Homo sapiens: one gene and its partners. The protein of the gene in region 3 purifies or fractionates together with the protein of the main gene of each other region. This does not show direct contact. Each region holds a gene or a part of one and is shown on either strand. Other genes may lie near its edges.

Evidence for each region.
Region 1: the proteins of CPNE3 (region 3) and KDM3B purify together in Homo sapiens (affinity purification with mass spectrometry; one large-scale study listed by BioGRID and IntAct). This does not show direct contact.
Region 2: the proteins of CPNE3 (region 3) and COLGALT1 fractionate together in Homo sapiens (co-fractionation; one large-scale study listed by BioGRID). This does not show direct contact.

Annotation. Positions count from the first base shown.
Region 1 is NC_000005.10:138,359,183-138,362,835, reverse strand, and holds part of KDM3B (lysine-specific demethylase 3B), read right to left. Parts: intron 1-3,653. UniProt on the Homo sapiens protein: Histone demethylase that specifically demethylates 'Lys-9' of histone H3, thereby playing a central role in histone code. Demethylation of Lys residue generates formaldehyde and succinate. May have tumor suppressor activity.
Region 2 is NC_000019.10:17,569,007-17,572,659, reverse strand, and holds part of COLGALT1 (procollagen galactosyltransferase 1 precursor), read right to left. Parts: intron 690-3,653; exon of another isoform or gene 669-689; intron 178-668; coding exon 58-177; intron 1-57. UniProt on the Homo sapiens protein: Beta-galactosyltransferase that transfers beta-galactose to hydroxylysine residues of type I collagen. By acting on collagen glycosylation, facilitates the formation of collagen triple helix. Also involved in the biosynthesis of collagen type IV.
Region 3 is NC_000008.11:86,517,308-86,520,960, reverse strand, and holds part of CPNE3 (copine-3), read right to left. Parts: intron 1-3,653. UniProt on the Homo sapiens protein: Calcium-dependent phospholipid-binding protein that plays a role in ERBB2-mediated tumor cell migration in response to growth factor heregulin stimulation.

The DNA of each region.
Region 1 (3,653 bases), on a different chromosome or scaffold from region 3:
GTGCAGCACACCAACATGGCACATGTATACATATGTAACAAACCTGCACGTTGTGCACATGTACCCTAAAATTTAAAGTATATAAAAAAGAAATAATTATATAATTATACTATAAAATTATAGAAAAATTATATAATAAAATTATAGAAATAATTATATAACAAAACCATAGAAATAATTATATTTCTATATTTCTTATAGGCAACTTAGGGGAGAGTAAACCACGTACACTATTCACTTAAGATATTTTGTGTGTGTGTGTGTGTGTGTGTGTGTGTGTGTGTATACACATATATGTATATATATATCCTGGGCTCAAGTGATCCTCCCTATAGGTGCACACCACTGCACCCGACTTAATGATTTTTGGGAAAAAAAAATCAATGGGCCCTCAGAAGAACAGGTGACAGCTAAGGCTGTCTTTCTGCATGTGATATAGACCTCCAGTCTCATCTCCTGTGATAGGAATTAATCTTCCCTGGTTCATAAGGTTAGCAGGGAAGGGATTCATGACAATAGAGTTCCTTCTTTTGTTTTTTTTTTCAGGCTGGAGTACAGTGGTGCAATCTTGGCTCACTGCAACCTCTGCCTCCCAGGTTCAAGCCATTCTTGTGCCTCAGCCTCCCGAGTAGCAGGGATTACGTGCGCCACCATGCCCGGCTAATTTTTGTATTTTTTAGTAGAGACAGGGTTTTGTCATGTCGGCCAGACTGGTCTCGAACTCCTGGCCTCAAGTGATCCGCCCACCTCAGCCTCCCAAAGTGCTGGGATTACAGGCGTGAGCCACAGCGCCCGGCCTAGAGTTCCTTTTGGAGGATGTGTCTTTAGGTAGATGAAGTAAGTTCAGAGACAGCCCTCCATCTGCTGCTCCCCAAGTGCCTTCAGTTTGAGATCCAATGCAGCATATTTTGGGGTGGCGTTTCCTGAACTTCTTCACAAGCTATACATCTTGCTACACATATCTATAACAAGAAAAACTACAATAAATATTCCAAAAAGTGGTATCCACAAAGTGCTAAAGGAACAAAGAATAAAAACAACATGCTGGGGAATCAGAAAGGCTTTATAGGGTTTGTAGCTCCTAGGATGCATGGGCCTGAAGGATGAGCAGGCTTTCTTTTCTCTGTATAGGATTTCAATGGATGACAGCATTAAAAGAAAAGTTTAAAGAAGGAACAAAGCAACGGAAGCCAGAAAATACTAGAAAAGTGAAGGATCACCAAAATCAAGGCTGCTTGCTTTAAACAGCCTTTTGGCAACACCCAATTTCCCTTGTCCAATTCTTTGCACATCAAGGACCCTTCTTATAGTAATTTGGTCTCTAGAGCAGAGCAGGAAGGGGCTCTATGCAGATCTCTGGATAGGTATACCTCCCACTGTAAATTAATAACCTTGCATGTGGATTTACAATTCAGTCTCCAGAGTTTGGTTAGAGAGAATCAGTCCCCTAGAGCCTGATTACCTCTGAAGTCATGAAAAAAGGAAAAAAAAAAAAAGGAGTTTCAGCCCTTAGAAAACTGAAGGAGGTCACACTATCTGAATCACTACTAATCAGGCAGGTTTTACCCACCTAGAGATCAAGAGCAAAAGATGATGCTTTCGCACCAGGGGCAGTAGGGATGGTACAGTGGAAAGGGCTTAAAAACCACCAACCTGTCAAAGGCAGTGGAAAACTGAGAAGCATCAACAGGTGTTGCATCCCCCAGGCCTTGTGGAAGCAAAGCCTATATAGAACCCACCCCAGCTGTTGCAAAGAAAATCACAATGGAAAATGCCATGTTTCTTACCCACCATTTTGAGTCTGCTGGTGGAAGGGGAACTAAATAAATAAACTACAAGTTGGAGAAGAGACCCAGGAAGCTGTGTATTTAAAAAAAAGGGAATGAACCCTTGGCAGGTGGGGAGTTAGTGAAGCAAGTCCCTTAGAAACAAATGGAAATTAATGGCCGGGCGTGGTGGCTCACGCCTGTAATCCCAGCACTTTGGGAGGCCAAGGCAGACAGATCACTTGCGGTCAGGAGTTCGAGACCAGCCTGGCCAACATGGTAAAACCCTGTCTCTATTAAAACTACAAAAATTAGCCAGGTGTGGTGGCAGGCACCTGTAATCCGAGTTACTTGCCTGTAATCCCAGCTACTCAAGAGGCTGAGGCAGGAGAATCACTTGAACCCGGGAGGTGGAGGTTGCAGCAAGCCGACAATGTGCCACTGCACTCCAGCCTGGGTGAAAGTGAGACTCCGTCTCAAAAAAAAAAAAAAAAAAAGAAATAGAACTATTAAAATTCACACACACACACACACACACACACACACAATCTTTTTTTAAAAAATCAACTATACAAAGTGCTTGAGTGTCTGAAAAACTCAACCATGGCTCAGTGTTTCAAAAACAGACCTGATGCTGTAAGGGGAGAGTTAAGATGATGAGTGTGCTTAGACGGGCTCACAATTAAACAGTATATAGTCTTAATGTCAAAAAGTACAATGTCATTTTTATTTAAAGTTCTCTAACCATACACAGAATCACAAAAACATATTCTATTTACATTAATAAATAGAGCATAAGTATCAAGGTATCACTCAGAGTTTCAACTTTTGGAATTGTAAGTAATGAAAGGACACAAACATTTTTAAAACCACAAACTCCCATTTCAACTAGGGCTGAAATTCTATGTTTGACCATAGGTAGCGAATTGTACACTGGAAATACGGTAAATATAGTACTATCCTGAACCTGACTATAATTATTACATTATTTAGAAACAAAATAGAGAGGTATTTTAGAGTCTACCTACCCCACCCTGAGACAGAGGAAAGGTTCGGTGGGGAGGTGTAAAAACAGAAGGCAGATACACTTTCACTCCTCCTGGAAGACTCTCAGATAGAAGAAACATAGTACTAGCCTAGACATTGCTACAATTATTACATTATCTCTAATCAAAGGAAAGGAGTATTTTAGAATCCGTCTTTCCTTGAAAGAGAGATGAAAGATTAAGGGATAAAAAAAAATAGGGCGGATATGCTTTCACTTCTCTGGTAACTTCTGGATACATGAGATAACTATGATACACATTCAAAACCAAGTGATACTACATGTACAGCATCATTTAATTACACCTACAGAAAGAAAAGAATGGTTTACCTAAAAAAATTAGTGTTGCCACAACTGGTCACTCAGCAGAAAACAAATTAGGTCCCTCATCTCACTTGCCAATTACAAAAATATTCCAGGCCAAGTGCAGTGGCTCATGCCTGTAATCCAAGCACTTTGGGAGGCCGAGCTGAGTGGATCACTTAAGGCCAGGGGTTTGAAACCAGCCTGGGCAAAACTGTGAGACCCAATCTCTTAAAAAAAAAAAAAAAAAAAAAAAGGTGGGGGGGGCACGGTGGCTCACACCTGTAATCCCAGCACTTTGGGAGGCTGAGATAGGCAGATCAGCTGAGGTCAGGAGTTCAAGACCAGCCTGGACAACATGGCGAAACCCTGTCTCTACTAAAAATACAAACATTAGCCGGGCATGGTGGCACACGCCTGTAATCACAACTACGCAGGAGACTAAGCCAGGAGAATCACTTGAACTCTGGAGGTGGAGGTTGCAGTGAGCCAAGACCGCACCACTGCACTCCAGCCTGGCTGACACAGTAAGACTGTGT
Region 2 (3,653 bases), on a different chromosome or scaffold from region 3:
CATCAGTGAAAGGGAGGCAACCTGGCACCTCCCAGGGCGGTGTGCAGGCAGACTCACCCATGACCTCCAGCTGCACATGCATGAAGCTCTCGGCCTCATCCTGGAGGGTGCTGTGGGCGCGCAATGGCACTGGCAAGAATCCGTACTCCTCCTTGTTGCACACATACATCTGAACCTCTGCAGTGGGCAGGGAAGCAACAGACAAATGTAAAAACAGGCGAGGCCCAGTGGCTCATGCCTTCCATCCCACGGCTTCAGGAGGCCAACGCAGGAGGATCGCTTGAGGTCAGGTGTCTGAGACCAGCCTGGGCAACAGAGCAAGACCTTATATCTACAAACAACTTTTTTTTTTTTTTAAGACAGAGTCTCACTCTCCCAGGCTGGAGTGCAGTGGCACTACCTTGGCTCACTGCAACCTCCGCCTCCCGGGTTCAAGTGATTCTCCTGCCTCAGCCTCCCTAGTAGCTGAGACTACAGGCACATGCCACCATGCCTGGCTAATTTTTTGTATTTGTAGAGACGGGGTTTCATCATGTTAGCCAGGATGGTCTCGATCTCCTGACCTCGCGATCCACCTGTCTTGGCCTCCTGAAGTGCTGGGATTACAGGTATGAGCCACCACGCCCGGCTCTACAAATAATTTTAAAATTAGCTGGGAATGGTGGTACCTGCCTATGGTCCCAGCTCCTCGGGAGGCTGTGGCAGGAGGATCACTTGAGCCCAGGAGACTTGAGGCTGCCATGAGCTATGATGGCACACTGCACTCCAGCTTAGGCAACAGGGCAAGGCCCTGTCTCAAAAACAAACCCAAAAAAAAAACAGTAAAAATGCATGTTGAGGCACAAAAAGGAAAGTTTGACAAAATGTGAGTTAAGTTACTTCCTTCTACATCTATCCTTTTCTGGATGGTTTAAATTTTGATGAGTGTGTATCTTTTTTTTTGAGACAGAGTCTCGTTCTGTCGCCCAGGCTGGAGTTCAGTGGTGCCACCTCGGCTCACTGCAACCTCCGCCTCTGGGGTTCAAGCAATTCTCCTGCCTCAGCCTCCCAAGTAGCTGGGATTACAGGCACCCGCCACCACACCCAGCTAATTTCTGTATTTTTTTTTAGTAGAGGTGGGGTTTCACCACGTTGGCCAGGCTGGTCTCGAAATCCTGACCTCAAGTGATCCACTGAGCCCAGCCAAGTGTGTATCTTTTTTAGACTAAAAAACTCAATGATGCTCTTTTAATTTAATTTATTTATTTTTTTTGAGACAGAGTCTCGCTCTGTCGCCCAGGCTGGATTGCAGTGGTGTGATCTCCGTTCACTGCCTCCTGGGTTCAAACAATTCTTGTGCCTCAGCCTCCCAAGTAGCTGGGACTACAGGCACCCACCACCATGCCCAGCCAATTTTTGTATTTTTAGCAGAGACGGGTTTCACCATGTTGGCCAGGCTGGCCTCAAACTCTTGACCTCATGTGATCCACCCACCTCACCCTCCCAAAGTGCTGGGATTACAGGCATGAGCCACTACACCCGGCCTCTTTTAATTTTAATTGGTCAATTTCTTCTATAAAGGGCCAGGTGGTAAGTATTTTAGGCTTGTGTGCCAGACGGTTTCTATCTCAATGACTCTGTTCTGCCTGTGGCACTTGAAAGCAGCTACAGACGACACTTAAATGAATGGGCTTGGCTGGGTACTGATGACACTTTATTGATGGGCAATGAAATCTGAATTTCATACAGTTTTCATGTGTCACAATATTCTTCTTCTTTTGATTCTTTTCCCCAGTGATTTAAAAATGTAAAAATTGGCCGGGTGTGGTGGCTCATGCCCGTAATCCCAGCATTTTGTGAGGCTGAGGCGGGTGAATCACCTGAGGTCAGGAGTTCGAGACCAGCCTGGCCAACAGGCAAAACCCCATCTCTACTAAAAATACAAAAATTAGCCAGGCGTGGTGGTGCACACCTGTAGTCCCAGCTACTAGGGAGGCTAAGGCAGGAGAATCAATTGAACCTGGGAGGTGGAGGTTGCAGTGAGCTGAGATCATGCCACTGTACTCCAGCCTGGGCAACGGAGGGAGACCCTGTGTCAAATAAATAAATAAATAATAAAAATGTAAAAATTGTTGGCCAGGCACCGTAGCTCACGTTTGTATTCCTAGCGCTTTGGGAGGCTGAGGTGGGAAGGATCACTTAAGGCCAGGAGTTCAAGTCTAGTCTGGGCAACATAGCAAGACCCCATCTCTACAAAAACATTTTTTTTTTCAATTAGCTGGGCATGTAGGCAGGTGCCTATAGCCCCAGCCAGTCTGGAGGCTGAGATGAGAGGATTGCTTGAGCCCAGGAGGTTGAGGCTGCAGTGAGCTACGATCACACCACTGCACTCCAGGCTGGGTGACAGAGTAAGACTGTGTCTCTAAAAAAATAAAAATAAAATATAAAAGTTGTTGTTAGCTTGTGGCCATATAAAAGTAATTAGTGGGGCCAGGCGCGGTGGCTCACGCCTGTAATCCCAGCACTCTGGGAGGCCGAGGTGGGCAGATCACAAGGTCAAGAGATCAAGACCATCCTGGCTAACACAGTGAAACCCCGTCTCTACTAAAAATACAAAAATTAGCCGGGCCTGGTGGCTGGTGCCTGTAGTCCCAGCTACGCGGAAAGCTGAGGCAGGAGAATGGCGTGAACCCAGGAGGCGGAGCTTACAGTGAGCCAAGATCGGGCCACTGCACTCCAGCCTGGGCGACAGAGCGAGACTCCGTCTCAAAAAAAAAAAAAAAAAAAAAGTAATTAGTGGGCCAGGTTTGGCCTGCAGGTCAGTTTGCCAACCTCTGGTTTCCAGTAAACAACAAGTCAACATGAGGCTGTGCTGTCTCTTTAAATATTTGTTTTCCCAATTAAACAATTAATATATGCTCAACTGTAGAAAATTAGGAGAATGGCCCAGGTGCAGTGGCTCCCTCCTGTAATCCCGGCACTTTGGGAGGCCGAGGTGGGCGGATCACCTGGGGTCAGGAGTTTGAGACCAGCCTGGCCAACCTGGGGAAACCCTGTCTCTACTATAAATATAAAAATGAGCCAGACATGGTGGCGTATGCCTGTAATCCCAGCTACTTGGGAGGCTGAGGCAGGAGAATCTCTTGAACCAGGAGGCAGAGGTTGCAGTGAGCCGAGATCGCACCACTGCACTCTAGCCTAGGTGACAGAGCAAGACTCTACTTCAAAAAAAAAAAACAAAAGAAAATTGGGAGAATATAGAAAAGTATGAAGATTGAAATAACATTTGGGGTTGATCATGGAAAATTGTGTAACGGGTTCAATGTATATTATTTGGGGATGGATGCCCTAAAATCTCTTGACTCACCACTTCACAATCTATGCACGTGACAAAATTACACTTGTGCTCCATAAATTTACACAAATTAAAAAATAATAGTAACATGCAATCAATAGGTATTTTTTTCTTGAGAAGGATTCTTACTTTGTTGCCCAGGCTGGAGTGCAGTGGCATGATCTCGGCTCACTGCAACTTCCGCCTCCCATATTCAAGTGATCCTCCCGCCTCAGCCTCCCCAGTAGCACCACCACGTCCGGCTAATTTTTGTATTTTTAGTAGAGATGGGGTTTCACCATGTTGGCCAGGCTGGTCTCAAACTCCTGACCTCAAATGA
Region 3 (3,653 bases):
ACAAAACAAAAAAGAAACAAAAAGGAAGAATCACTGGATCAGGTGTCAAAAGAAATGGACTGGGCAGATCACCTGAGGTCAGGAGTTTGAGACCAGCCTGGTCAACATGGCAAAACCCTGTGTCTACTAAAAACACAAAAATTAGTTGGGCATGGTGCACTGTAGTCCCAGCTACCTGGAAGGCTGAGGCAGGAGAATCACTTGAACCCAGAGGTAGAGGTTGCAGTGAGCCAAGATTGCGCCACTGCACTCCAGCCTGGGTGACAAAGCAAGACTCCGTCTCAAAAAAAAAAAAAAAGAAATGCCTGGTTCTGTGTTAGTCACACCACAATGGCAGGCATTTGGGCAACTGCTGTAACTTCTCCAGGCTTCAGGTTTTTTCAGCTGTTAAATCTTTTTTTTTTTTGAGATGGACTTTCACTCTTGTCGCCCATGCTGGAGTGCAATGGAGATCTTGGCTCACTTGCAACCTCCGCCTCCTGGGTTCAAGTGATTCTCCTGCCTCAGCCTCCTGAGTTGCTGGGATTACAGGCGCTGCCATCACGCCCAGCTAATTTTTGTATTTTTAGTAGAGACGGGGTTTCACCATGTTGACCAGGCTGGTCTCGAACTCCTGACTTCAGGTAATCCGCCTGTAATCTGCCCACCTTGGCCTCCCAAAATGCTGAGATTACAGGCGTGAGCCACTGCGCCCAGCCTTCAGCTGTTAAACCTAAGAGTTGAGTCAATCCCTTTCTTTAAGTAATTCTTAAGGTCTTTTCCATTAATGTACTATAACCCTAATTTAATTACAGTGAATATGGAACTTGTTTAGGAAGTGGTACTAAAGGATTTTTTAAAATGAATAGAAAACATTAGAATATTTATAAGTACAAAAAGGAGAAATGGAAGAAAAAGGATAAAGTTTTCCAAACTCAGTCTCCATCTCTATCAAAAAAGCTATATCTGGGGCCAGGTGCGGTGGCTCACGCCTGTAATCCCAGCACTTTGGGAGGCTGAGGCGGGCGGATGGTCTGAGGTCAGTAGTTCAAGACCATCCTGGCCAACATGGTGAAACCCATCTCTACTAAAAATACAAAATTAGCTGGGCATGATGGCGCCCACCTGTAATCCCAGCTACATGGGAGGCTGAGGCAGGAGAATCGCTTGAACCAGGGAGGCGGAGGTTGCAGTGAGCCAAGATCGTGCCATTGCACTCCAGCCTGGGCAAAAAGAGCCAAATTCCATTTCAAAACAAAACAAAAAAAGCTATATCTGAAAAAAATGTATCTAGAAACTTCTCCACTAGTTAGGTACCTTTGCTCAAAATTGTTATTAAGTGCTCAGATGACTTAAATAAACAAACAAACCACAGGGCCCAGTCTATTAAGTAGATGCAGCACAATAAGGAAATAAATTTTATTAGCATCCATGAAATCTCACATTATTAAGCTCTTAGCATCTATCATGGCAGCAAAATAAATCAGCTTTTAGCCACACTTCAAAAAGTTTCCAGATTCTTAAACTATCTTGAGCAGGATCTAAATAGTGATACCATTGCTGATGCTTGGACATGCAGAACGGAGGAAAGCAGGAATTAACAGGTGTGATCACTCTAACTTCAAAAATAAAAAGTAGGTGCAGTTTTACCTTCTCTTTATCATTACAAAGTAAGCAATCAACTAAAGACCCTTCATTAATTTCTCTAAAATCCTGGTATTGTTCTATTCCATGATTCATAACTGGCTACAAAGTTTACTTAACATATGTTTCAGGTTTTACCACTTTTCTAATCCCTTGGCTACTGTATATACATTTTGGAAGTATCACTGATTGTATTTTCAAGTCCATCAATTCAACAGTTCATCATAGGTTCATTTAGTGAGGTATTAATAAAAGTTATTAATAGAAGCAGGGTTGGGCCAGGCACGGTGGCTGATGCTTATAATCCCAGTACTTTGGGAGGCTGAGGCAGGCAGATGGCTGGAGCTCAACAGCAGCCTGGACAACATGGCTAAACCCCATCTCTACCAAAAATACAAAAATTAGCCAGGTGTGGTGGGGTGTGCCTGTGGTCCCAGTCATTCTGGAGGCTGAGGTGGGATTGCTTGAGCCTGGGAGGTGGAGGTTGCAGTGAGCCGAGATCATGCCACTGCACTCCAACCTGGGTGGCAGAGTGAGGTCCCATCTCACAAATAAATAAATAAATATTTTTTTTTAAAAAAGAAGGGCTATCAGAACTTATTAGCTACCTAAGCAGAAAAAATAAAATTAAAGTTAAAAAGTTAAAAATAAGAACTTACTAACATCAGTGTTGCTAAAGTTGGTATACACCCCCTACTGCTAAATTTGACTGGCTTAAGAAAAAAAGAAGCAGTGGTGATGTCTCACTACTGTCCCACTTTATGGAACATGCATCTTGGCAAAGCTGGCTATAAAATACATGTCTACAAAGTGAATCACCGTTTACCCTCAATGAAAATCAGTGCTGCATCCCCTAGCTGAAAATCCCAAGTGTTCAGTTGAAAAGTTTTCCATTATAAGGACTAAGTAAAGCTGCTGGCCAGCTGTGCAGCAGGCAGGCTGGATCTGATATTAAGGTACACCAACCTGTGAAGACTGAAGTCTCCTGGGGTTCTCATTCCCCTCAGACCACATTAAGAATTTCCCCCCTTCTGGAATTTCCCAGATGTTGAACCAGCCACCAGAACCTCTCACCTGCCCTGGTGTCCACCATGCCCCGACTCTAAATGCATGCTTTCCAAAATTTGACTCCTTTCCTTTTCTTTGTAGGGGAGCATGTATATTTAATTGGGCAAGATGGGCACTTCACAATTCATCACCGTGTGCTCCTTTCTAGTTCACGGTGAACAAATAATCTAAAAATGCCTTCAGTTTAAAGCAGCAACAACCACAACCATGTGGTTCTCAAGGTTTAAAAAGTTTGTATATTGGGCAAAGGCTGTTGAGATGTTTATACATTTCCTGATTTCAAGAATATTCATGTCCTGGTTGCTTAACACATCGTTTCAGCTGTTTTTAATTAGGGCAAATCCCTTTATATTTCCCAATCATGAGCAGTTTAATAGTACTATTAATTCATTCAACACTTATTGAACAAATATTATAGATTGCCTACTGTGTGTCAGGCACTGTTCTAAGGTGCTGGAGAGCCAACAATAAACAAAGCAGGCCACCATCCCCATCAGGGAGAGGTTAGTTACACTGCAGGAAGGCAGACAACAATGAAGACAAATAAGTAACATATATAGTATATTAGGTGGCAGTAAGTGCTACAGGGAACAATAAAGAAGGAGAACAAGAAGTACTGAAGGTGGGGTGCAATTTTACATATTTTATAAAATTGTTTTGACAATACCATCAGGAAGTATTTGTCTTAATTTTCACTTCTTTTTAAAAAATTCTGACACATAAACATGAAAATGTGGACAGATAAGTAAGTTCCTCTTTACAGTTGCAGGTACCTCTTTTAACAGGTACTGACCGTCACCTTGAAGTCTAAAGGCGTGGTAAACTAAAAGCCAGGGAAGGTGAAATAGCCGGATAACAATGTGTCCAGAAAACCACACAGTTGCTCTGGTAATTTTCACAGGAACTAGATATAATACAACCATTTGCAAGAGACATTTCAAAATGATTTACTAAAATGAGTA